7 linked regions of the Homo sapiens genome follow. The protein of the gene in region 5 interacts with the protein of the main gene of each other region in a pairwise test. Each region holds a gene or a part of one and is shown on either strand. Other genes may lie near its edges.

Region 1 (3,290 bases), on a different chromosome or scaffold from region 5:
AGTTTAGTCACCTCTGAGCCACCCATCACCGCCAAAGTGTGGGGGAAGGATAGCTGCAGATTGACAGGCGAGGCTCAGAAACTCCTGGCTTAGATTGAAGTGTGTGTGATGGGGGTGCAGCTTAGAGGACCCCCTCTGAAAGGGATGGAGATGCTGATGAGAACAACACTACCACTTGAAGGTGAACATTCCCTGTCTGGTTGGACTGAGTCAAGGGTCTGCGGTGCAGCATCTTCAGCTTGAGAAAATGAGGTTGTCAGTTTCCAGCAAGGCTGACATCCACCAGACTGATTTCTCCGATGTTGCACTTGGCTGGCTTATGCCTCTGAGATCGGTGCCACGGCTGTATTTATTTCAGTTGTCACTGCTGCTCCCTCCTGCTATGAAACGACACTGCCAGTGCCAGCAGTGTCCTTGGGAAAGGCAATATTTATGAAGGGCAGAAGAGGCAGCCCCAAGAACCTAAAGACTGCAGGCTGCTAATTGCAGGAAATGACTTTGGAAGGGCAGGCTCTTGTCCAGTTTCAGGGCTGAAATGCCTGGCGAACTCCATTCAGCCATCACATATTGACTGAGTGGCTGCTTAGCATGGGCCACCGCGCTAGGCTCGGGACAGCTGGTCTTTCCGGCCATCTTTCTTGCTGGCAAGTCAGCAAACATTACCTTCTTAGTCACGTGCATATTTTTGCCTTCATTCTTACCACCTGGCCTGCAAAGTTTGCAGGAGGGCCAGGTATATTCACTTGTGTCTTCTGGGTCCTTTCATTGCTGACAGGCTGTGATGGCCCTCTTGAGCCTTGGGCAGGGTGGGTGAGGTGCAGATGACCAGGAGTGTGTGAATGCCTTCCAGGAGGTGGCTTTGTTCCGTGCCTCCCTGCCCCCATCGTCACTACCAGGTCTGGTACGGAGTCGGTGCTCAGTGTTTGCAAAACAGAGCTGAAAACGGACTTTGGGAGGCCGAGGCAGGCAGATCACCTGAGGTCAGGAGTTTGAGACCAGCCTGGTCAACATGGTAAAACCCCATTTCTGCTAAAAAAAAAAAAAAAAAAAAAAAATTAGCTGGGCATGGTGGCGGGTGCCTGTAATCCCAGCTATTCAGGAGGCTGAGGCAGGAGAATCACTTGAACCTACGAGGCAGAGGCTGCAGTGAGCCAAGATCGTGACACGACACTCCAGCCTGGCTGATAGAGTGAGACTCCGTCACAAAAAAAAAAAAAAAAAAAAAAAAACCCTGAAAACGCAATCACTAAGGCTCGGTCAGGGAGTATGTTCAAAGAGCTTGCAGCGAATCACTCAATTCTGTCTACACCTCAAAATCTCAAAATCTTCCTGGAATATATATATATATATAAAATAACACAGCAGCCCTGCATGCCTAGCCATGGGAAAGCACAGCCTCCAAAGGATAAGGAAAGCTTTTTGAGTAAATACAACATCCTAAAGTGACAATCTTTGAAACAAGGCCGTTCACCTGTTGCCAAGTCCTGTCCTTCCAGGACCGGGTGTCACAGCCTGGATGTTAACAGTCGCGTTCTCAGACCCCCGCCTCTGTATCTGTCTCCCGGTTCACCAGCAAACACTTCTCTGAGAAACCACCTGGGTGCAGGGCAGATGCCACCACTCAGCAGGTGTTTCTCTCCTGTGCTACCAACCTGGGAAAAATGGAGAAAGCTTGCTTTGGGGGCTGGAAGGATGGGGTGTTTAAAACATTTGCTCTTCTGCAGTGCCTTTCAAAAGCTCTATCAAGAGCCCGAGGCAAAAGAAAAGATGTGTACCCCTCTGTACACTGAGCAAATGTCCTCCCATATTTTGAACCAGGTGGGAAAAGTTAATGAAAGCCCTACAGTCAGGAAATGTGACTGCGAAGCCCCCGCTGCCCCAGTGTTTGCACACCACTGGCAACTCTCAGAAACAATCAGTCCCATTGCACGGGAACACGGGGTTTTGAAACAAACAGCAGCCTGTTTTTATTTAAAGTCGTGATCCCTTGCTTATCGTAGATTTTTTTCATAATTTGATTTTGGAAAATATTGCACACAAATACTACTCGATCCCTGAGTTTGTGGGCACTTCCTTACATTTTGCACCCATGAAAATGCCTCCTCCGCCTCCAGGTCAGGCTCCCTGGAATGGGGTGTTTAGTGTCATTTCCAGAGACAAGCTGGCAGTTGGCTCTTGTGTCAGAGAGAAGCCCACAGTCACAGTGACACCAGCCCGCACTGTGGAAGGGCTTGCTATGTGCAGTGCCCTGAGCCAAGTGTTCCACAGACATTATCTCATTTGAACCCCATAGCAGCCCTGGAAGGAGGCATTGGGTGGGGAACCAAGTTGTCCTGGGGAGTCAGTGCCAAGATGTGAGCCCCGGACGCGGCCTCGTCACTCACAGCCCCGTGCTCCTCAGCTCCCACCCACTGCCGCTTGACAGTCGTTTTAATCACTACCTGGGCTGTGGCGAACAATGCCAGGCTCTGATAGATCCTGCTGTCTCATTTCTCAACCTAGTTTCCCTTAACTAATATTTCATGGCTATCGTTAATGTGCGTTTTTCATCGAGTAATTTCCACAGCCCGAACTTGTAACACATCCCAATGACAAACGTCCCCAGTTCGGAAGCCCCCGTCAGTGGCAATGTCACCCTTGCTGCTGCCTCGACACCTTCCGACAGCCCATTCAGTTTTATGATCGCCCTGTCCCAGTGATCACTACTGAACCTTTAAGAATCCAGATGCATTTCAAGTTTAATTGAATAAAATTCTTTGTATAATAAATTCCGCATGAATGCTACATAAATCAGTGCCTGGAAGGATTTGTGGCTCATCCCTCCCCTCTGGCGGGGCCTGAGAATCTTCTGGCAATACTGACACAAGCTGGAATAAATGCATCTTTGCAGTCAGTCCAGCTAGAGGCAGGCGGCACAGTTTTAACTTGCCTTGGCCTATTGCTTTTCTTCTCTCAGAGTCCTCCTGGAAGATAGTGCTAAAGTCCAACAGAGGCAGGGACAGGCAGATTGCGGAGACCTAGAAACTTTGGGGACATCCCTCGTGTTCTCCCATTCCACAGAATCAGAAACTTCTCAAGCTGTGGTTTGTCACCTTTGGAATGCACACACACATATTCACAAGTTTGCATCCAGTCATAGGAAGTCCATGGAACCTCCCGGTAAGAATCCCTTTTCTAAGAGAACCCATGCGACCCTCTTCGGGAGCTAAGTCAGGATTCCCAAGGCTGCCTTCAGCAGCCTGTTTCAGGGTCAGATAGCTCCAGCCTGGAAGGGTGAGAAGATGCACTTG
Region 2 (3,500 bases), on a different chromosome or scaffold from region 5:
AGTCTCGCTCTGTTGCCCATTTATTTATTTGAGGTGGAGTCTCGCTCTGTTGCCCAGGCTGGAGTGCAGTAGCACAATCTCACTGCAACCTCCACCTCCTGGGTTCAAGTGATTCTCCTGCCTCAGCCTCCTGAGTAGCTGGGATTACAGGTGCGTGCCACCACGCCTGGCTAATTTTTGTATTTTTAGTAGAGACGGGGTTTCACCATGTTGGTCAGGATGGTCTTGAACTCCTGACCTCATGATCCACCCACCTCGGCCTCCCAAAGTGCTGGGATTACAGGCGTGAGCCACTGCGCCTGGCAGATCTGATCTTTAAACCCACTATTTCCATGTTTGCAAATATATTTTAAGATAATAGCTGGATGCAGTGGCTCACACCTGTAATCCTAGCACTTTGGGAGGCCAAGGTAGGCGATCACTTCAGCTTAGGAGTTCAAGACCAGCCTGGGCAACATGGCAAAACCCTGTCTCTACTAAATATACAAAAATTAGCTGGGTGTGGTGAGACATGCCTGTAATCCCAGCTACTCAGGAGACTGGGGCAGGAAGAATTGCTTGAACCTGGGAGGTGGAGATTGCAGCGAGCCAAGATCGTGCCACTGTACTCCAGCCAGGGCTGGAGTAAATTAAATAAATAAATAAATAAATAAATAAATAAATAAATAAAAAACACTTATGGGCTGGGCACGGTGGCTCACACCTGTAATCCCAGCACTCTGGGACACCAAGGTGGGAAGATCACTTGAGGCCAGGAGTTCACGACCAGCATGGGCAACATGGCAAAACCCTGTCTCTACAAAAAAATGCAAAAATCAGCCAGGCATGGTGACACACACCTATCGTGCCACTGCATTCCAGCCTGGGTGACAGAGCAAGACCCTGTCTCAAAAAAAATAAATAAAACTAGGCCGGGCGCAGTGGCTCACGCCTGTAATCTCAGCACTTTGGGAGGCCGAGGTGGGCGGATCACGAGGTCAGGAGACCGAGACCATCCTGGCTAACATGGTGAAACCCCGTCTCTACTATAAATACAAAAAATTAGCTAGGCATGGTGGTGGGCGCCTGTAGTCCCAGCTACTCAGGAGGCTAAGGCAGGAGAACGGCATGAACCTGGGAGGCGGAGCTTGCAGTGAGCTGATATCACACCACTGCACTCCAGCCTGGGTGACAGAGCAAGACTCCGTCTCAAAAAAATAAAATAAAATAATTAAAAAATAAATAAATAAATAAAGATAAAAAACACGATGCTAAGTGACAAAACCTTTAAAAAGATTACAAACAACCTATATGACAATTAGTGGAAAACAAATGAAATATATCCAGAAGATACAACTATATCTATTAAAACTGATGATTTGCTGGGTGCGGTGGCTCACATCTGTAATCCCAGCACTTTGTGAGACCAAGGCGGGAAGATCACCTGAGGTCAGGAGTTCAAGACCAGCCTGGCCAACATGGTAAAATCCCATCTCTACTAAAAATACAAAAATTAGCAGGGTACGGTGGTGCACATCTGTAATTCCAGCTACTTGGGAGGCTGGAGCACAAGAATCACTTGAACCTGGGAGGCGGAGGTTAGGGTGAGCTGAGATCGCACGCCACTGCACTCCAGCCTGGACGACAGAGCGAGACTCTGTCTCGAAAAAAAAAAAAAAAAAGACGATTTGACAACTACATGTAGTATGTGACCCCAGATCAGGTCCTGTACTGCAGGGGAAATGCTACCAAGGACATTATTGGGAAAACTGATGAAATGCCACATGGATTCAATTATTGTAGCCAAGTTAAATTTCTTAAACTTGATAGCTCTACCATGGTTACATAAGAGAATATTCTTCTTAGGAAATACACATATATTAAAGGGTAAAGAAGCATGATGTATTGTAACCTACCTTTCAAGTGGTTCACAAAAAATAAATCTCAAGGTACACAAAGAAAATAAAGCAAATACAAGCAAAATGTTAAATACTGGTAAATCTGTATAAAGGGTATATAAAAGTTCTCTGTATATTTTTGCAATGCTCTTTGAGTTAAAAAACATTTTTTTAAATCATACAATTTGGCTGAGCACAGCGGCTCATGCCTGTAATCCCAGTACTTTGGGAGGCTGAGGCAGGATGACTGATTGACTCCAGGAGCTCAAGACCAGCCTGGGCAACATAATGGGACACCATTTCTACAAAAAATTTAAAAATTAGCTGGGCATGGCCAGGCACGGTAGCTCACACCTATAATCCCAGCACTTTGGGGAGCCAAGGCAGGTGGATCACCTGAGGTAGGGAGTTCGAGACCAGCCTGGCCAACATGGTGAAACCCTGTCTCTACTAAAAATACAAAAATTAGCTGGGCGTGGTGGTGGGCACCTGTAATCCCAGCTACTCTGGAGGCTGAGGCATGAGAATCGCTTGAACCCAGGAGGGGGAGGTTGCAGTGAGTCGAAATCACACTCCTGCACTCCAGCCTGGGTGACAGAGCGAGACTCCGTCGCAAAAACAAAAATTAGCTGAGCATGGTGGCACACACCTGTCATCTCAGCTGCTCAGGAGGCTGAGGTAAAAGGATTACTTGCACCTGGAGTCAAGGCTGCAGTGAGCCATGATCGTGCCACTGCACTCCAGCCTGGGGTGACAGAGTAAAATCTTGTCACAAAAACTAAGAGGCTGGGTGCAGTGGCTCACATCTGTAATTCCAGCAGTTTGGGAGACCAAGGCGGACAGATCACCAGAGGTCAGGAGTTCGAGACCAGCCTGGCCAACATGGTCAAACCCCAACTCTACTAAAATATAAAAATTAGCCAGGTGTGGTGGCGCACACCTATAATCTCAGCTGCTCTGGAGGCTGGGGCACAAGAATTGCTTGAACCCAGGAGGCAGAGGTTGCAGTGAGCCAAGATCGCACCACTGCACTCCAGCCTGGGTGATGAAGCGAGACTCTGTCTCAAAAAAAAAAAAAAAACTAAACTAGAATAAAATAAAACAATATACATATCTATCATATGATTATTTATTGACACGAAACTGTATTCCTTGTACAGTTTAGAGAATAAAGCACATAGAATATTAATGAATTTCTATAATGTATATACTAATATGTATTTTTTATATCTTATAATTTTTATATTTATATTTTTTCTCTGCACAAAAATATGTACTGTTTATATAATGAAAGCTACCATTTTGAAAAGAAAAACAAAATCCAGAACCAAAATTGTACATACAGTGAGTATGGTTTCAATTATGACATTCATACAAAAACAACGGAAGGAGAAAAAAGATAAAGAGCATATTCAAGTGGCTGCACTTATGTAATGGGATTGTGACTGAGTGTTGTTCTGCTTCTTTGTACTTTTCTGAACTTAGTGGTAATATATTACTTTTATATGTAGAAAATAAAAATAAAATTATTAAGCATTAAAAATCTCTGGAAAAAATATATAAAAATATTAATAGTGTTGAATTTGGGTGGTGGAACTTAACATTTCACATACGAATTTTTTC
Region 3 (3,500 bases), on a different chromosome or scaffold from region 5:
TGTGCTCTTGGACAGGTTACTTTATTTCTTTGGACTTCTGATTTTTCACTTGTGTGTAAAATGAGGATTATAATAGATTTCATAGGCATGTCCTGAGGATAATCTTATAAAGCATTTAGGCATGTACCTGGCAATATGTAATTAAATGACCTTCAGTGACTGTTCAGAGGATGTTATCTAATACTTGTAAACAAAAGCAAATCTGTTATTGAAGTATTGATTGGTGCTCTTAACTGTGACTGAGATTATAGCCATCTATGAAATAGTTTGTATGAATTACCATTTCAATGTTGAACAAATTTTTTTTTTTTTTTTTTTTTTTTTTTGAGATGGAGTCTCACTCTGTCACCCAGGCTGGAGTGCAATGGCGTGATCTCGGCTCACTGCAACCTCCACCTCCCAGGTTCAAGGGATTCTCCTGCCTCAGCCTCCCGAGTAGCTGGAATTACAGGCACCCGCCATCATGCCCAGCTAATTTTTGTATTTTGTAGATACGGGGTTTTACCATGTTGGCCAGGCTGGTCTTGAACTCCTGACCTCAGGTGATGCGCCCACCTTGGCCTTACAGGCATAAGCAACTGCACCCGGCCTTGAACAATTAATGTATGACTTCCTGCTAACTTATATTGGTCTTAAAGGCTACCTGACCTTGTTATCTGTTTGGCGGTTTATTTTATGGAGCACTAAACACAATTAGAGACCAAAAGATCTTTTTTAGTGGCCCAGCCCAAAAGACAATTTTTAGAAAGCTGTTGTGATGCTAAATTAAATAAGGGGAAACATACAGGTGGCACTTGAGGCAAAGCAAGTTTAATTAGAAGATGATGAGAACATGGGTAGAGATTTGTAGATACTGTAGCATACTTTTAGAGATCTTAGAGGTTCATGACACTAGTTATTTTTTATTTTATTTCAAATTTTAGTCCTTTAAAATAGTATCACCAGCACTATATTTACATTGTCAGCTATGATTAAAACCCTTTTCTGGCTTATACTTACAACAGAGAGGGAAAGAGATCATCTTCCCAAAGATAAACCATATTTAGGGAAAAAAATCAAGTAGGAAGATTATTTGAGGGTAAGGGGTGTGTGTGTGTGTGTGTGTGTTTCCATCCTCAAATACTTATAACAGTCATGTTTTTAGTGTTAACACCAACTCAACTCTAATTTTACAGCTAAGAAAGTTGAACCCCCCAAAGATGCTGACTTACCCTAATTAAGTCAGCCAGTAATGCCAGAGCCAGTGCTAGATTAATCAAACAACCTTTCACCACATTGTGAACTTCTGAAGGGCAGAGACTATTTACTTATTAATATCTTAGTACCACACATGGTAGATGCTTAGTAAACATTTGACTAGAATATTGAACAAGGTGGCTTAAGTCTTTCTTTGTAACTCTCACATCACGAACACTCCAGCTAATTTGGGTTGAGTATCACCAAAAAAGGTGGGAGGGTTGCTAGAGAGAGTTTAACATTCTAAAACCTTGTTCCTCTAAGTGGATTCCTCTAAGCAACATTGGCATCACCAGGAAGTGTATTAAGAAATGCAGGCTGTGCTGGTGGCTCACGCTTGTAATCCTAGCACTTTGGGAGCCCAAGGTGGGAGGATCACTTGAGGCCAGGAGTTCGAGACCAGCCTGGGCAGCATAGCAAGACCCTGCCTCTACAAAAAAAATAGCCAGGCATGGTAGCACATGCTTGTAGTCCCACTTACTTGGGAAGCTGACGCAGGAGCCCAGGAGTTGAAGGCTGCGGTGAGTTATCATTATACCAGTGCACTCCTGCTTGGGCAACAGAAGAATACCCCATCTCAAAACAGAAAAAAAATGCAGAATCTCAGGCCCCATCACAGACCTACTGAATTTGAATCTACATTTAACAAGATTCCCGGGTGATTCACATGCACAGCAAAGTTTGGGAAACATAATTAAAGTCCCTCACAGGGGAGCAGGAGAAAATAGTAGGAAACAAGTGTCATTAGACTTTCCCTCTTGCCAATCCAGAAAAGTTGGTTGCTATCTGAAGAAGCCTCAGGATGAATGGAGGAGGTAGTGAGTTACCATCAGCTATTTTTGTGTTCTAGGGTTTTAAAAAAAAAGCCAGAAAATTTAACATTTAATTTTTCTGCAGTGGTTCACTGTCAGCTGTGAATAGCCATTATCTTTCATCTCTTGAAGTTCTGTAAAATTGGAGATTTTTTACCTAAACATTATTCTGAATGAATTTATAAATCTATTTTTCTCTTAGTTATGTCTTTTTCAGCATTCTGCTTCATTAGGTCTTTAAAATACATTGAAGTATATATGCAGCTCTGTTTCGAAAGTTTTTCTTTGATCAGAATATTGTCATGTAGCCTTGTTTCCTTGCAGTTGGAATGTTAAAGAAATTCATCAGGCTGCTGACTATCTCAAAGTGGAAGAGGTGGTCACTAAATGCAAAATAAAGATGGAAGATTTTGCTTTTATTGCTAATCCTTCTTCTACAGAGATATCTAGTATTACTGGAAACATTGAATTGAATCAACAGACTTGTCTTCTTACTCTGCGAGATTATAATAATCGAGAGAAATCAGAAGTATCTACAGATTTGATTCAGGCAAATCCTAAACAAGGCGCGTTAGCGAAAAAGTCATCTCAAACGAAAAAGAAGAAGAAGGCTTTCAACTCCCCGAAAACAGGGCAGAATAAAACAGTGCAATATCCCAGTGACATCTTAGAGAATGCATCTGTTGAATTATTCCTAGATGCAAATAAACTGCCCACACCTGTAGTAGAACAAGTTGCACAAATAAATGATAATTCAGAACTCGAGTTGACATCAGTTGTGGAAAATACTTTTCCAGCACAAGATATTGTGCACACTGTTACAGTGAAACGGAAACGTGGAAAATCACAGCCAAACTGTGCTCTGAAAGAACACTCTATGTCTAATATAGCCAGCGTCAAGAGTCCTTATGAGGCGGAGAACTCCGGGGAAGAGCTGGATCAGAGGTATTCCAAGGCCAAGCCAATGTGTAACACATGTGGGAAAGTGTTTTCAGAAGCCAGCAGTTTGAGAAGGCACATGAGAATACATAAAGGAGTCAAACCTTACGTCTGCCACTTATGTGGAAAGGCATTTACCCAATGTAACCAGCTGAAAACGCATGTAAGAACTCATACAGGTGAGACGGGTGTGTGGGGAGATATTATTTTTATACTGTGACTAATATAGTGTATTTTTATAGAGAGTACTTAGCACACACTACTTGTGACCAGAATTTGGTATATTTTTCTATTCATCAAAGTATTTAACAGTGTTAAACTGTTGAAAATTTATTTGTAATTGTAACCAAGTATTTAATGGCTGTTTAAGCCCTAATGCATCAACTCCTTATACCATTTTCCCTCCAAATAAGTATGTTGATTCTAGCTTACCAAGTATTTAACAGAGACAAAGACATTAAAACTGATAAAGAGAAAATGTAATTACAATTCAGGCCAATTTTCAGATATTGC
Region 4 (4,064 bases), on a different chromosome or scaffold from region 5:
GTGAGCAAAAATCTTTTTGGACTCGGGAATGGATTCTTAGATATGACACCAAAATCACAAGCAACCAAAGAAAAAATAAAGTGAACTTCATCAAAAGTAAAAACTTTTGTGCTTCAAAGAACACCATTAAGAAAGGATGAAGAGAATTCAACAAATGAGAGAAAATATTTGCAAGTCACATATTTGATAGGAAACTTGTATCTAGAATATATAAATTTATCTTACAACAATATAAAAATAAATAATTCAATTAAAAATGGGTAAATGATCTGAATAGACATTTCTCCAAAGCAGATATACAAATAGCCAATAAACACATGAAAAGATGCTCAATGTCATTAGTCACTACTGAAATACAAATGAAAACCATGGTGTGATACCACTTCATACCCACTAGGATGACTAAAATCAAAAGGACAGACAATAACAACTATCGCTGAAAATGTGGAGAAATTGAAACCTTTATACACTGCTGGTAGGAATGTAGAATGGTGCAGTCACTTGGGAAAACAGCTTGGAAATTTCTCAAAATGTTAAACATAAAGCTACCGTATGACCCAGCAATTCCACTTCTAGGTATATACCCAAGAGAACGGAAAACATATGTTCACAGCAGCATTGTTCATAACAGTCAAAAAGCTGAAACAGGTCGGGCACAGTGGCTCACGCCTGTAATCCTAGCGCTTTGGGAGGCCGAGGCGGGCAGATCACCTGAGGTCAGGAGTTCGAGACCAGCCTGGCCAACATGGTGAAACCCTGTCTCTACCAAAAATACAAAAATTAGCTAGGTGTGGTGGTGTGTGCCTGTAATCCCAGCTACTCCAGAGGCTGAGGCAGGAGAATCGCTTGAACCTGGGAGGCGGAGGTTGCAGCGAGCCGAGATCGCCCCACTGCACTCCAGCCTGGGTGACAGAGCAAGACTGTCTCAAAAAAAACAAAAAACAAAAAACAAAGCTGAAACAATCCAAATGTCTATCAATTGATGAATGGATAAATACAATGTGGCATATTCATACAATGAAATATTATTCCACAATAAAAAGGAATATAGTACTGATACATGCTACAACATGGACAAAGCCAGACACAAAAGGTCACATAATATATGACTCCATTTACATGAAATGTCCAGAATAGATAAATCCATAGAGACTGAATATAGATTTGTGGTTGCCAGGGGCTGAGAGGAGAAAGTGCTTAATGGATAAGGGGTTTTACTTTGGAGTGTTGGAAATGTCTCAGAAGTACATAGGGGTTGTGGTTGCACGACACTGTGAACATACCAACTGCTGCTGAGTTGTTCACTTGACAATGGCTAATTTTATGTTACGTGAATTTCACCTCAATAAATCACAGGTATTTGAAAGAAAAAGCAATCCAAAAATCTAAGCTAATATTTCCACTTACATGCAATGTTTTAAAAGTTGAAAAGTATTTCAAAAAGAGAGAGGATTTGTTTTTACAAGTTGGACTTGGCTTTTTTTTTTTTAACCTAGGAAATTTGGCTAAATTTAAAGAACTGTGAGTAATCCTAGATATAAAAAGATAATTTCTCTTTACTCTCTGCTAATAAACGTCTACTACAGCAGTAGAGTTCAGATGGAGCTTTTGAAAGATTTATTTCATGACATGCTTAAAGATTTGAAAGAGTCAGTACACCTCCTATGTCCCTTCCTACTTTCAGAGATGAGTTTCCTACATCATCAGCACAAGTCAGCTGGGTAGGAGAATAACATTTGATTCCCAAAGTAAAACATCCCACGCTAATTAGTATAGCACACTCTGCATCCTAAACCCTCCACCTTAAGCCTGAATAAACTTCCAAAGGCAAGACGTGGAATAGAAGTTGGGGGAATTACCTATAACCTAGACATCAAAGAAGTGGAGTTTAAGAGCAAATTACTCATATTAATTGTCCCAGCTTATTTACTTGTTTTTATTTTAATTTGCTTGTTGGAAACTCTATCCCTTAAATGCTCAAGTTTGTTTCAACTAGATGCCAATAGCCATGAGAAAGAACCTCAGTACAAAATAAACAAAGTGAATATTTAAGCTTCTAATTATATGGGGGTACAGAAAGGCATGCCATCTATTTAGAAACAATACACCTTTTTTTTGGAAACAGATGATCTAGCATTCTCCCAATTCTCCTAGATTATTTTTAAAACGTGATGCAAATCTCATGAAGTTCTGTGTTGAATAGATATAGAAATAATGTGATCATTGAGTTATAAAATCCAATAAAAATTCAATGATGCTACTAAATGTCACAAAAGTAGGGATATAGCTATTTATAAAAGTATTGAAGAAACACATATAAATTACACTGCCTTTCTTGTTCCCTGCCACTGAGTTTTAAATTGAGATTTTATATTGGTACATTATCGAATGAAATTAAATCAAACACAAAATATCTCTAAGACAATACTTTATGGTACTTCATAAATTCAAAGCTACATCTTCCTAAATGTAGTTTCCTATGCTACTCTAACGATGCCTTGTGCAAATCACACAGGGCAGCTTGAGCATCGTGGGAGTAAATGAGAAAGGAGAAGAGGGTGAGGGCAGCTCATTTTCCCCTTTTCATTCATAACCACAGGCACATTCCCAGTACTCACATGTGTCAGATCTCCTGGTTTTCGTTGAAGAACTGCTGCATCCCATGACTTCTATCTAAATCATATGTGTTCATGAATTCAACTTCTGATTTTAAGACAGAGTGTGAAAAGTGCCTCCCTTTAAGCTGCGAGGAACCACTCTTAGCCGATCCTCTTCAGTCATAGATTCTAATGAGGAATACACAGGAGGGAGGGAAGGAAACCGCCAGTTAACCACATGGTAGCTGAGGGGCTGCTCAGCAGGATTCATTTTACGCTTCTTCTGAATCGCTGTTCATCATGTGATGTGGAAAGTGATCAGACATAATCTAATCCTGGCTTATTTTCCAAAACACAGCAGCAGCTACAGAGCAGCTATAGGCTGCTTCTCTGCTAGACATAAATGAGTTTCTCCATGTCTAGGTCACATCCAGCTCTGTATAAAATAGAGCATTCAAAATGAAAAGAAAAATCGAAATATGAGAGTGTACGATTTTCTAATTTAAATATGGGGAATGGGATGTGGAGGAGCTGACATAATTAACTGTTTTGGTTTTCAGCTCAAAGTAATTCAACCTATCTAGGCTTTTAAAAACACAAATTGGAAGTTGACTATGAGACAAAAACAACATATTTAACAGCTATGCTGAAATTCAAAGTGAGTTCTTTGACAGTATTTCGCGGAATAAGTTGGGAACATTTGTTTTAAAAAAAAGGAGGCAGCCGGTCGCAGTGGCTCACGCCTGCAATCCCAGCACTTTGGGAGGCCGAGGCGGGCGGATTACGAGGTCAGGAGTTCGAGACCAGCCTGGCCAACATGGTGAAACCCCGTCTCTACTAAAAGTACAAAAATTAGCCAAGCATGGTGGCACATGTCTGTAATCCCAGCTACTCAGGAGGCTGAGGCAGCAGAATCGCTTGAACCCAGGAGGCGGAGGTTGCAGTGAGCTGAGATCGCACCACTGTACTCTAGCCTGGGCGACAAAGCGAGACTCCATCTCAAAAAAAAAAAAAAAAAAAAAAAAAAAAGGAGGTTTGAAACCTCCCCCCAAATTTAGGAATTGTAATCTGTGAGAGTGTCCTTTTATTTATTTTATTTTTTGAGACGGAGTCTCGCTCTATTACCCAGGCTGGAGTGCAGTGGTGTGATCACAGCTCACTGCAGCCTCAACCTCCCAGGCTCAGGTGATCCTCCCGCCTCAGCCTCCCTAGTAGCTGGGACTACAGGCATGCGCCACCACACCTGGCTAATTTTTTGTATTTTTAGTAGAGACGGGGTTTTGCTGTGTTGGCCAGGATGGTCTCGAACTCCTGACCTCAGGTGATCCACCTGCCTCGGCCTCCCAAAGTGCTGGGATGACAGGCGTGAGCCACCGTGCCTGGCCAAGAGTGCCCTTTTAAACAAGCTCTCTGGGCACTGCTGAGGCCCCTCTGGAGTCTAACTTTGTGTTCTATAGTCCTTCTCAT
Region 5 (2,664 bases):
TCCAGGTCTTTAGATAATAACTCTTTCAACCAATTGCCAATCAGAAAATCTTTGATTCTGCCTATGACAACATCCCCAGGTCTTGAGCTGTCCTGCCTCTCCAGACCAAACCACTGTACATCTTACATGTACTGACTGGTATCTTATGTCTCCCTAAAATGTATTAAATGTATAAAACTAAGTTGTAGCCAGACGACCCTGGACACATGTTCTCAGGATCTCCTAAGAGTTGTATCACAGGCCATCAGTCACTCACACTTGGCTCAGAATAAATCTCTTCAAATATTTTTACAGAGGTTGACTCTTTTTGGCAACACTTTCCCGGCTGGCAGTCAGGGTTCTACCTTCTGTCAAATTATGAGTGTTAAGTTCCACATAAGGGATTTCTGATTTCACAAAATAAGCAACAGGACCTTGAGTGGCTTTCAATAATTTCAGTGCAACAGTGCTGGGGACTTGTACCACCTCAGTAGCCAAAAGGAACAGATACAGGAACCCTGTTTGAGAATATCTGCCCTTTAATTTGCATTTAAAATCAGTTTCTTTAAATACTTTAGTTACAAGTTCTGAATAGTGAAGACAGAGTAGTAGATGCTGCAGGCACTCAGTATTGGCTCCCACCCCTTCCCCCCTCCCCCACCCCCAGGCCTCACTTCTTGGCTTAAGATACAAAAGGGCACTCTCTACTGGCCCTGGTGTCAAACGTCAGCAGCCTCAGGCCTGGATGCAGTTGGATACAAAGCCATGAATCCCAGTGGCTCCAAGGAATTCCAATGATTGTGCCCAGATCCACGGGCAACACACCTTAGAAATGACCTCATCCGTTTCACCACTAGGTACTAACACCCTCAGGGTGGTTTCCTACCCCAGTCCACGTCCTCCAGATCTGTGTCCTGCAGAGGAAGAGACAAGGCCCCGCTATAACGCAGGAAGGAACAAAAACTGCCTCCTCAGCCCAGGTGCTTACAGCAACTTAACTGAAAAGCTCAAGGCAATGTGAGTCAGTCTAGAGGAGACCTCCCTTCCCTAGTCTCTACCAGGCTCTGGCCCTTCCTCGGGACCACGCTTGGTCCCACTGCCATGATGTGCTAGAATCTGCTCTAAGAACAAGGTGCTAGAATGAGGCCCAGCAACCAGCAAAGGGGTTGGAAAGGGTTGCTACAGCCCCAGCTGTGTGAGATTGTGCCAAGACGAGTCTTCTTGGTGTCAGCCTATGATGGAGAGCGTGAGGGCAGGCCTGGGCTCTCCTTCTATGATGATTACAATGCATGACCTCAGGGGACCTCTGCCCTCTCCTCCCACTCACACACCCAGATCCCCTGGCCTGTGCTTCCTGGAAGAGGTAGAAGAGGCATCTTGAAGTCAATGACAACGGAGAATGAAGGTGCCATTGAAGAAGCAAAGCAGCACCTCTTTGCCTGTGTTCAATCCCTCCACACAAGTGGAATCAAGGGAGAATGTGCACAGCCAGGACAGAGGCTGCTCTGAGCTTGGGAGGCACAGCATCCTCCTAGAAGTCTCTGCAGAACAAACTTTCAAAAGATAGGAACTTAATCACATGGTCCCCAGGGGTTTCTCTATAGTATACCAGCACTAGGGAAAAGCAAAATCATCTTTGCAGAGAGCTGATGGAAGAAAGGCAGGAATATGAATGAGCATCCATTAAGGCTCTCTCTCTTAAGCCTAAGGAATTAAGATATTCGAGGCTATGAGACAGGTGCAGAGAGGGAGAGCCTGGCAGGAACGCCAAGAAAAGACCTGTGACTGCTGGTTACACAGTGCTCTGCTTCCTTGCTTGAGGCCAACAGCATGTGTCTGCCTGTCACCAGGCTAACCCGGGACCCATGAGGGGACAGGGAGAAGACTGGTTTTCAGTTCCTGCATGATCAACTTGTAGGGTGTGTGGGTTCCTCCTAAAGATCCAGGAGGAGGACTCTGGGATCCTCTACCGCTGCCTTGATTTTGCGGAGGAAAGTCACAGCCTCTCTGCCATCAATCAGCCGGTGATCATAGGTCAGTGCCACGTACATCATGGGCCGCACCTCTACCTACAGAGAGGAAAGGTAAATAGGTTTGTCTCCAGCAAGCCACAGCCAGCCTCGCTGAAGGAGATTTAGCACAGCCCATAAGAAAGTTCCTAATTCCAGAGCCTTTCCTATTGATGTTGCCTCTGCATATTTACAGTATTTCAAAGACCAGGACTTACCCTCAGTGCAAAGCTTCCCCACTCAGAAACAAAGTTTGCCAAGAAAACTGTCTTCTCACAACTGCCTTTTATTTTTTAAAAACATACTCTGCCCTCTAACGCATCTGCTGCCTACAAGGAAAGTTTTCCCTTCAGTTCTGGCTGCCTGTACTTGCTTCTCTCTGGGGTTAGAATTTAAAAAAAAAAAAAAAAATTAAGCCAGGGTCTACAAATTCTGGAATTGTATGTGTAGCTGGGTGTATGGGCATTTTCCAGGAAGATCTACAGACTGTGGTTTCACACAGGAGTCAGTAACCCAAAAGGATTCTAAACACAGGAGTTCCCAGAAAGCTTTTTTGATACCAACGTATCTTCTAAGGGCCAGCTCAAGCCCCTTTTAATACTTAATTCTCTGAACTCCCGGGAAATTTACAAGCTTTATCATACAACTTGGCAGCTCACAGACTGACATGCATAAT
Region 6 (3,202 bases), on a different chromosome or scaffold from region 5:
TCCACCGGGTTCCATCCACGCCCAGGCTCACCCAGGCAGCCCACAACCATGGCAGGCCTGGACTTAAGCCTCGGGGCAATCGCCACCCAGGAGCTGGAGGGAGAGCAGAGGCGGTGGACCTGGGGAACGAGGCCACCGGCGAGAGGCTGGTGCAGCAGCGCCATCCACACCAGGGTCGGCCATGCAGAGCCCGTCCCCCACCCCCACTGCTTCTGTGTCTCACGTGGACCTCAGGGCGAGTGCACAGTGACCCTGGGGGAGCCACGTCTGCAGGACGGGTCTCAACTGCTTCCCATCCCTGGCAGTACCTGCTGGGGCCATTCACATCATGGTCACTTGGGAAGGGTCCACCAGCGTCCAGCACAGACCCCGTCACTGACCTGCACACTGTCCGTGCTCCCTCGCGTAGCCAGAGATACACTCTTTACAGTTTCCTGGGCCTTCCCCTGTGCAGCCCACACAGCTGGAGTCACACTCTGCAACAGGGAGCCAGCGTCAGACCCCGACATGCACAAGGCACCAGTGCCCGTCAGACCCCGACATGCACAAGGCACCGGTGCCGCCAGGATTTGGGTTTTCTCCTCATTCATCACCAAGTGACTTTATAACGATCTGTCTCTGTCTCCCGGCAAAAGCACAGACTCGCGTCCTGCTGTGCAGCAGGTGCTCCCGGAGAGCCATGGTGCAGACCACCTGGCTTGGAACTCTTTGGGAGAAACTGGGTGCTACAGAGATTCTAGAAACAAACCCACCTCCAGCTCGGTGACCATTGGTTTGCCAGCCTGCCAGGAGCTTCCTAAGAATAACCAGAGCCTCTCGCATGGCTTCCAGTATTAGTGGCTCACTGAGGGACCCACTGTCTGCACTCCCAACAGTGAAAACTGCCTGGGGCTGTCACACACACGGGGCAGAGGCGGCCTCCTCCCTGCTGCTGGGACTGGGGATCAGCACAACTTTTCTGGGGCACTATGGCTCTAAAAGACACATTCCCTTGACTGAGCGATTTGGAAATTAATCCACAGAAAATCATAAGGAATGTGAAAAGTTTACCTTCAAGTGTTCACAGTTTATAAGTTGAAAAACTGTTATGACGTAAACGTCCAGCAACAGACATTGTTGTAAAAGTATGAAATAATGGCTCCAAAATCATTAGCGTGACAGAGAAACCACAGGACGCAGAGACGTTCGCAACAAGCTGCTGAGTGGAAAACACCCGACAGGCGCTGCGGAAAGTCACGCAGGGCACGTTGCGGGGGCGCTGGGGGGGCACGAGCAGTGGAGGCACCAGCAGGGTGCGCTCTCCAGGGAGTTCCTGGGTTTTTAACTGTTTTCTTTTCATCTGACTTGAATTTTCTGATTTTCCTGCAGCAAATACCTATGACTTACTTTGCCACACTAAGTGTTCTCAGGGCAGGCAGGATGTATGGAAGTGACACTAAGAAGCCATAAATGAATGTTGACAAAGGCAGCAACGAAACCCGGCAGGCCCCGGAGTGCAGACCCGCCCGCCTGGCCCACCTTCGCACGTGTAGGAGCCGTTGGCGTTCTTACAGAACTGCGCAGCGCTGCAGGGAGGCGGCTCGGCCGCACACTCGTCCACATCTGGAACAGAGCGGCACAGCTGTGAGCGGCCCAGGACAGCCCGGCCAGGGAGCGGGGAAGGACCGATCATGGCCTGACACAGCCCGTGGCCAGGGCCGGCTGGGGAAGGGCAGGGAGGAGGGCAGCCCCTGAGGAGGAATCATCTCAAATGCCATCCTCGGAGGCCCCACGCGGCAGGGGAGGGGATGAGGCGATGGCCAGGCCCTGTCCTTAGACACTCAGTGCCAACCGGGGCAGGCGCCCCATGAGGATGGCGACACATTGTGTGAGAGTGAGACAGTGAGTGCCCCCACACCTCACGCCCCCACCTCACGCCCCCACACCTCACGCCCCACCTCATGCTCCCCCACACCTCACGCCCCCCACACCCCAAGCCCCACACCTCACGCCCCCACCTCACGCCCCCACACTTCACGCCCCCCTGCCTCCCGCCCCCATGCCTCACACCCCCCACGCCTTACGCCCCCATCTCACACCCCCCACGCCTCACGCAGGCGCCCTCCTCCACCCCCGGGCCGCTCCTCACCCACACAGGCGCCCTCGTCCAGCACCCAGCCCACTTCACACTCGCCGCAGTCTCTGTTGGTCAGGCCCGAGCACGTCTTGCAGGACTCGTCACAGGCTGGAAGGCAAAGGCGGGCCTGGGTACAAACCCCACTCTCAGGTACCAGCTTGGGGACAAGGCTCGTTTAAAAGTGAGGAATTTAAGAGGGAAAAGCAACACGGGATTTTCAGTGCCCATGAATTTAAAATTCTCAGCAAACCAGGACTCCAAGGAATTTTTAATAACCTGGAGAGAAGGCAGCTATCCATACTCTGGAGCTGTAGCCTGGCTGGGTGTGCGTGTTCCGGCCACGGATCCATGCGTGGCCCACGCCACGCCAACATCCAAGAGACAGACAGCAAGGCGGGTAAGAATCGGAGAGGCCGGTCCTGACTGCTGAGGGGCGTAAGAATCGGAGAGGCCGGTCCTGACTATCGATCCACGGGTCTGTCTGCCCAGAATAGCCTAGGGGCTGCCGGCCAACCACACACTCACGTCCGAGACACTCAGAGTTTTCCTACATATCAGTGACAACCAGGGAGAAAACGTCCTTTGGAAAGATGCCACTCATAACGGCCTGCAGGGATTTGACAGATGCTGCTCTCTGGGCCGGTGCGGGGCCCACACGGCACCTCCAGGACCTGTGCACTGCATGGCCCATCACAACTCAAGGTCGGGGTGGACCTTGAACTAGAGAGAAAGGTGAGTAGCTTCTCCCTTCTGAGGGCTGTTACGGGACAGGAAGTGCCCGACAACCTCTGCCTCTATCCTCTGATGTTTTCATTCATCCTTCTGGGCCCTCGAAGCTTCCTTGGACATCTGGGGTTAAAGATCAACAGGCCCCTGTTCCCATCTAGGCAGGCAGCTCCAGCAAGGGGCTCTTGTCATCCCGCCTCAACCCCGGGGCCAGCCCAGGCGTAGCCCGTACCTGTGCAGATGCTGTGGGTCTCGTTCCGGAGCGAGCTGAAGTAGCCGTCCATGCAGTCAGTGCACAGCGGGCCCTGGTACCCCATGTGGCACCGGCAGGACCCGTCGCCCTGTCTGCTCCCATCTCCG
Region 7 (3,500 bases), on a different chromosome or scaffold from region 5:
CCATAACATCCCCAGCAGTGCTGGGTGCAGAATCAACTTTTAATAATCTCCGGGAATGTGTGCACTCTCCTGTCTCTGGGCCTCTGCTCAGGCTGTCCCATCCCAGAGTCTGACCTGCATTTGCCTAGCCTTCATGGCCACACTTAAGGTGACCACCTCTGGGCATCTTCCTGGGGTCTATTGAACAGAACACATCACTTCCTGCCCCTCTGCTCCTGAAGCACTTTATGTCGCAGTGTTGTGGATTAGAGTGCCCCTGGATGAGCCCTGTTTGTCTGTGTTCTAAAGCACAGGTGCCAGAAGGCAGAACCTGTGTTTTCTCTGGCCCCTGGGAGAGGGACTGGCATGCAGCAGCTGCTGGAGAATAGGAACTGCATCTTTTTTATCTTTGGATCCACCACAGCATTTTCACATTGAAAAGAGGTCAGTAGGTTTTTTTAGGGTGGTATGGCCGTAGACCCCATCCAAGTACTAGCCAGGCCTGACCCTGCCTAGCTTCCAAGATCAGATGAAATCAGGTGCGTTCAGGTGAGTTTTGTTTTGTTTTGTTTTGTTTTGTTTTGTTTTGTTTTGTTTTGTTTGAGACGGAGTCTTGCTCTGTCACCCAGGCTGGAGTGCAGTGGTGTAATCTCGGCTCACTGCAAGCTCTGCTTCCTGGGTTCACGCCATTCTCCTGCCTCAGCCTCCCGAGGAGATTTTTTTAATTGTTCATTTAAATAGAGTTCATGCCCTAAAACCTTTGCGAGAACATCCTTTTACAGATGAAAGTCCAGATATGCCATCCTGTATTGTAGCCATGGTCGGTATAACCATGCTCGTTTCCAAACTGTCACAGCACATTGCATATTTTCTCTGATTTGTGAAAGATAATATGTAAAAAGTTTCACAAAAGCATGTGTGCACAAACATACTAACAGAGGTTTGGTGTTTTTTAATATTGAGTCATGTAATGGGGAAAAAAGTTGAAATCAGCTGTAGCTCTGAAAGCTGAAATGTGTACTGCCATATTTGTCATGGTTTTCCCTGCTGTTCTGGAATTCTTCTGTGGGAGCAGGAACACTATTTTATATATGCATATCTTCTCTTCATGAATGCCAGAGACTGGGTTTTAAACTTTAAAAAGTCTCACTCATACTAGGTGTCCATTCTTGCTGAGTGATTGAATTATTATTCTACAAGAAGATAAAGGAGCTGTTGCCGCACAAGCTGTCTGGTCTTTTGGGTGATTTGTATTTTACAAACAAACATTCATTTCCTGTCTACATTTGACCTCTTTTCCAGGGAGGTTCCCCTGAAGGATGCTAAGGAATACGCTGAATCCATAGGTGCCATCGTGGTTGAGACAAGTGCAAAAAATGCTATTAATATCGAAGAGCTCTTTCAAGGAATCAGTAAGTACCTGAAATTGGGTTTTCAGCCCAACTTGCATTTTTATGCTTCTGGGAGTCAAAGGATAACATTTTAGAACTCTGAAGTGAACTTTTCCTCTGTGTGAATTTATCGGATGCCATGGATACAAAATCTACAGCTATGCAGTTGTTAATACCCACTTCTATTATCCTCTCGATTCTAGATTTCCATGATTCTGTACTGGAACCTGTTCACTCTGAGTTCTGTAAATTAAAATGAAGTAATCCTGTTGCAAAAATAAAATTTATTTTAATTGAAAATTATGCATTCTGTAGCATTTTATGTTAGGAGGAGAGAGAAAATAGACAAGGTATAGAACTCAAGGTCACCCATTAGATGGGATGACTCTAGGTAAACTGAGGGAACCTTCCAGTAACTTTTTTTGCCTGATCATCTCCTACAAAAAGTAATGTCTCCATCCTGTTTGACCTGAAATTGGGAATTGGATACAGGGTTGGCGTGTACAGGTACCCCATGTGTCTGGTGAGCTAATTAGGGAGGGTGACAGCCTCCTTCCTGGTCCCAGTGCTGGGTCCCGTTATGCTCACTGTATGCCGGCTCCCCGGGAATAACCTTATCAACCAGAGCTGGTTCCCAGCTAATGGCTCTGCCAACACATCTATCTGCAGCTGTGAGGCTTCCAGCTCAACAGATTTAACCTTCATAAGTTCTCTGGTTGTGTCATTCTGTTCCGGATTCTGCCAGAGAAGTCCCTGCTGACAGCCATCTGGGAAAACTGCTCTGAGACACCCTCAGGAAAGTTCGACCGGAGCATTATCAGGGACGTTGGGAGAAGTACAGGTGTTTGATGAAATACTGGCCCTGAAGTTCCTGGAATAGCCACCTTAGGAGGAGTTGAACCCCAAAACAGTAATTGTCCTCAAATATCTTAGCTCCAGACAACTCCAGAAGGGAAACTGATGGTTTGATCTCTTTCCTGCCTGAGATCGTTTTTGGCAGAGCTCTCAAAGTCAGAGAAGCCGTGGCTTCCCAGAACAGTTTTGATTTCTGTTTAACTGGTTTGAGTGCATTACTTTAGACTCCAAGAACCCACAGGAGGGAATCTTTTGTTTATGTTGGCTTGATGGAGAATTCATTGGAGATGGGGAATTCTGACCTGTCTTACCTACACTATGCAGAGATATGCAAAAGAAATGTGCAAAAGAATGGCTTGGAGCCTCCCCTCCCCAGCTGCTGGCCCTTTCCTTCACTGGGGTCTTCACTCTCTTCCCTTCTTTCCACCTTCCCTTTCTTTCCTCCTTTGATTTCTTACTCTCAACAGAATGGTTTCAGGCTCCTTGCCCTGAATGGCTGAACTCTAGCAGGCTGGGGCTGGAATTTCATGTGGGAAACCCCATGTCCCCACATTCCTCTCCCTTCTCCATCATGGTCAGTGGGTGCAGATGCTCTCTGGTGTTGTGTCACTCTGGGTGACATCTAAGTTTGGGCTCGAACTCATTACATTAGCCTCACATTTCCTCAGATTAAACTCATTCTCTTCTGGTGGCGTTAGGCTCTTCTGCTATGCTCAGCTATGAAACATTTTGTTTTTACAGGTGGTTTTAATGAATGAAGCTAGATAGCTCCTGAGGACGATTGCCTTAGCACCTTCCATCCTTACAGCCCCGCGTCTTCCGCAGAGCCCCCTCCTCCTCCTTAGCTCCCTGGCCTTGGAAGACCCCCAGCACAGATATCAGTGGTCAGCCAGGGGAGCCTGGTGCCTTGTATGACCTGAACTTGAGCTTGAGATCTCTGCACCAGCTGGGAAGCTTTCTGAAGTTTATGAAAGTCATTGTTAAAATTTAAAAATATCAAATAAGGACCTGAAAGAGAAGAAGCCTGAGTAGGAAGTACTGTACTAATATCTTTTTTCTTTTTTTTTCTGAGACAGAGTCTTTGTTGCTCAGGCTGGAGTGCAGTAGTGCAATCATAGCTCGCTGCAGCCTCCACCTCCTGGGCTCAAGCAATCCTCCGACCTCAGCCACCTGGGTAGCTGGGACTATAGGTGTGCACCACCACACTCAGCTAAATTTTTGGATTTTTAGTAGAATCAAGGTCTCGCCATGTTGCCTAGGCTGGTCTCAATCTCC

The links.
Region 1: the proteins of DLST (region 5) and MMAB interact in binary tests that used the Homo sapiens proteins (3 or more experiments, as listed by UniProt).
Region 2: the proteins of DLST (region 5) and ISY1-RAB43 interact in binary tests that used the Homo sapiens proteins (3 or more experiments, as listed by UniProt).
Region 3: the proteins of DLST (region 5) and MYNN interact in binary tests that used the Homo sapiens proteins (3 or more experiments, as listed by UniProt).
Region 4: the proteins of DLST (region 5) and PPEF1 interact in binary tests that used the Homo sapiens proteins (3 or more experiments, as listed by UniProt).
Region 6: the proteins of DLST (region 5) and CRELD2 interact in binary tests that used the Homo sapiens proteins (3 or more experiments, as listed by UniProt).
Region 7: the proteins of DLST (region 5) and RAB31 interact in binary tests that used the Homo sapiens proteins (3 or more experiments, as listed by UniProt).

Annotation. Positions count from the first base shown.
Region 1 is NC_000012.12:109,553,215-109,556,504, reverse strand, and holds the end of MMAB (corrinoid adenosyltransferase MMAB precursor), read left to right. Parts: 3' UTR 1-2,790; downstream 2,791-3,290. UniProt on the Homo sapiens protein: Converts cob(I)alamin to adenosylcobalamin (adenosylcob(III)alamin), a coenzyme for methylmalonyl-CoA mutase, therefore participates in the final step of the vitamin B12 conversion.
Region 2 is NC_000003.12:129,140,564-129,144,063, forward strand, and holds part of ISY1-RAB43 (ISY1-RAB43 protein), read right to left. Parts: intron 1-3,500. UniProt on the Homo sapiens protein: Component of the spliceosome C complex required for the selective processing of microRNAs during embryonic stem cell differentiation. Required for the biogenesis of all miRNAs from the pri-miR-17-92 primary transcript except miR-92a.
Region 3 is NC_000003.12:169,776,396-169,779,895, forward strand, and holds part of MYNN (myoneurin), read left to right. Parts: intron 1-2,372; coding exon 2,373-3,166; intron 3,167-3,500.
Region 4 is NC_000023.11:18,706,381-18,710,444, reverse strand, and holds the start of PPEF1 (serine/threonine-protein phosphatase with EF-hands 1), read right to left. Parts: upstream 2,801-4,064; 5' UTR 2,665-2,800; coding exon 2,619-2,664; intron 1-2,618. UniProt on the Homo sapiens protein: May have a role in the recovery or adaptation response of photoreceptors. May have a role in development.
Region 5 is NC_000014.9:74,901,580-74,904,243, reverse strand, and holds the end of DLST (dihydrolipoyllysine-residue succinyltransferase component of 2-oxoglutarate dehydrogenase complex, mitochondrial isoform 1 precursor), read right to left. Parts: intron 2,049-2,664; coding exon 1,914-2,048; 3' UTR 501-1,913; downstream 1-500. UniProt on the Homo sapiens protein: Dihydrolipoamide succinyltransferase (E2) component of the 2-oxoglutarate dehydrogenase complex. The 2-oxoglutarate dehydrogenase complex catalyzes the overall conversion of 2-oxoglutarate to succinyl-CoA and CO(2).
Region 6 is NC_000022.11:49,921,634-49,924,835, reverse strand, and holds part of CRELD2 (protein disulfide isomerase CRELD2 isoform b precursor), read right to left. Parts: coding exon 3,075-3,202; intron 2,966-3,074; coding exon of another isoform or gene 2,931-2,965; exon of another isoform or gene 2,842-2,930; intron 2,543-2,841; coding exon of another isoform or gene 2,393-2,542; intron 2,225-2,392; coding exon 2,129-2,224; intron 1,603-2,128; coding exon 1,519-1,602; exon of another isoform or gene 1,376-1,518; intron 477-1,375; coding exon 381-476; intron 1-380. UniProt on the Homo sapiens protein: Protein disulfide isomerase. Might play a role in the unfolded protein response. May regulate transport of alpha4-beta2 neuronal acetylcholine receptor.
Region 7 is NC_000018.10:9,844,301-9,847,800, forward strand, and holds part of RAB31 (ras-related protein Rab-31), read left to right. Parts: intron 1-1,281; coding exon 1,282-1,391; intron 1,392-3,500. UniProt on the Homo sapiens protein: The small GTPases Rab are key regulators of intracellular membrane trafficking, from the formation of transport vesicles to their fusion with membranes.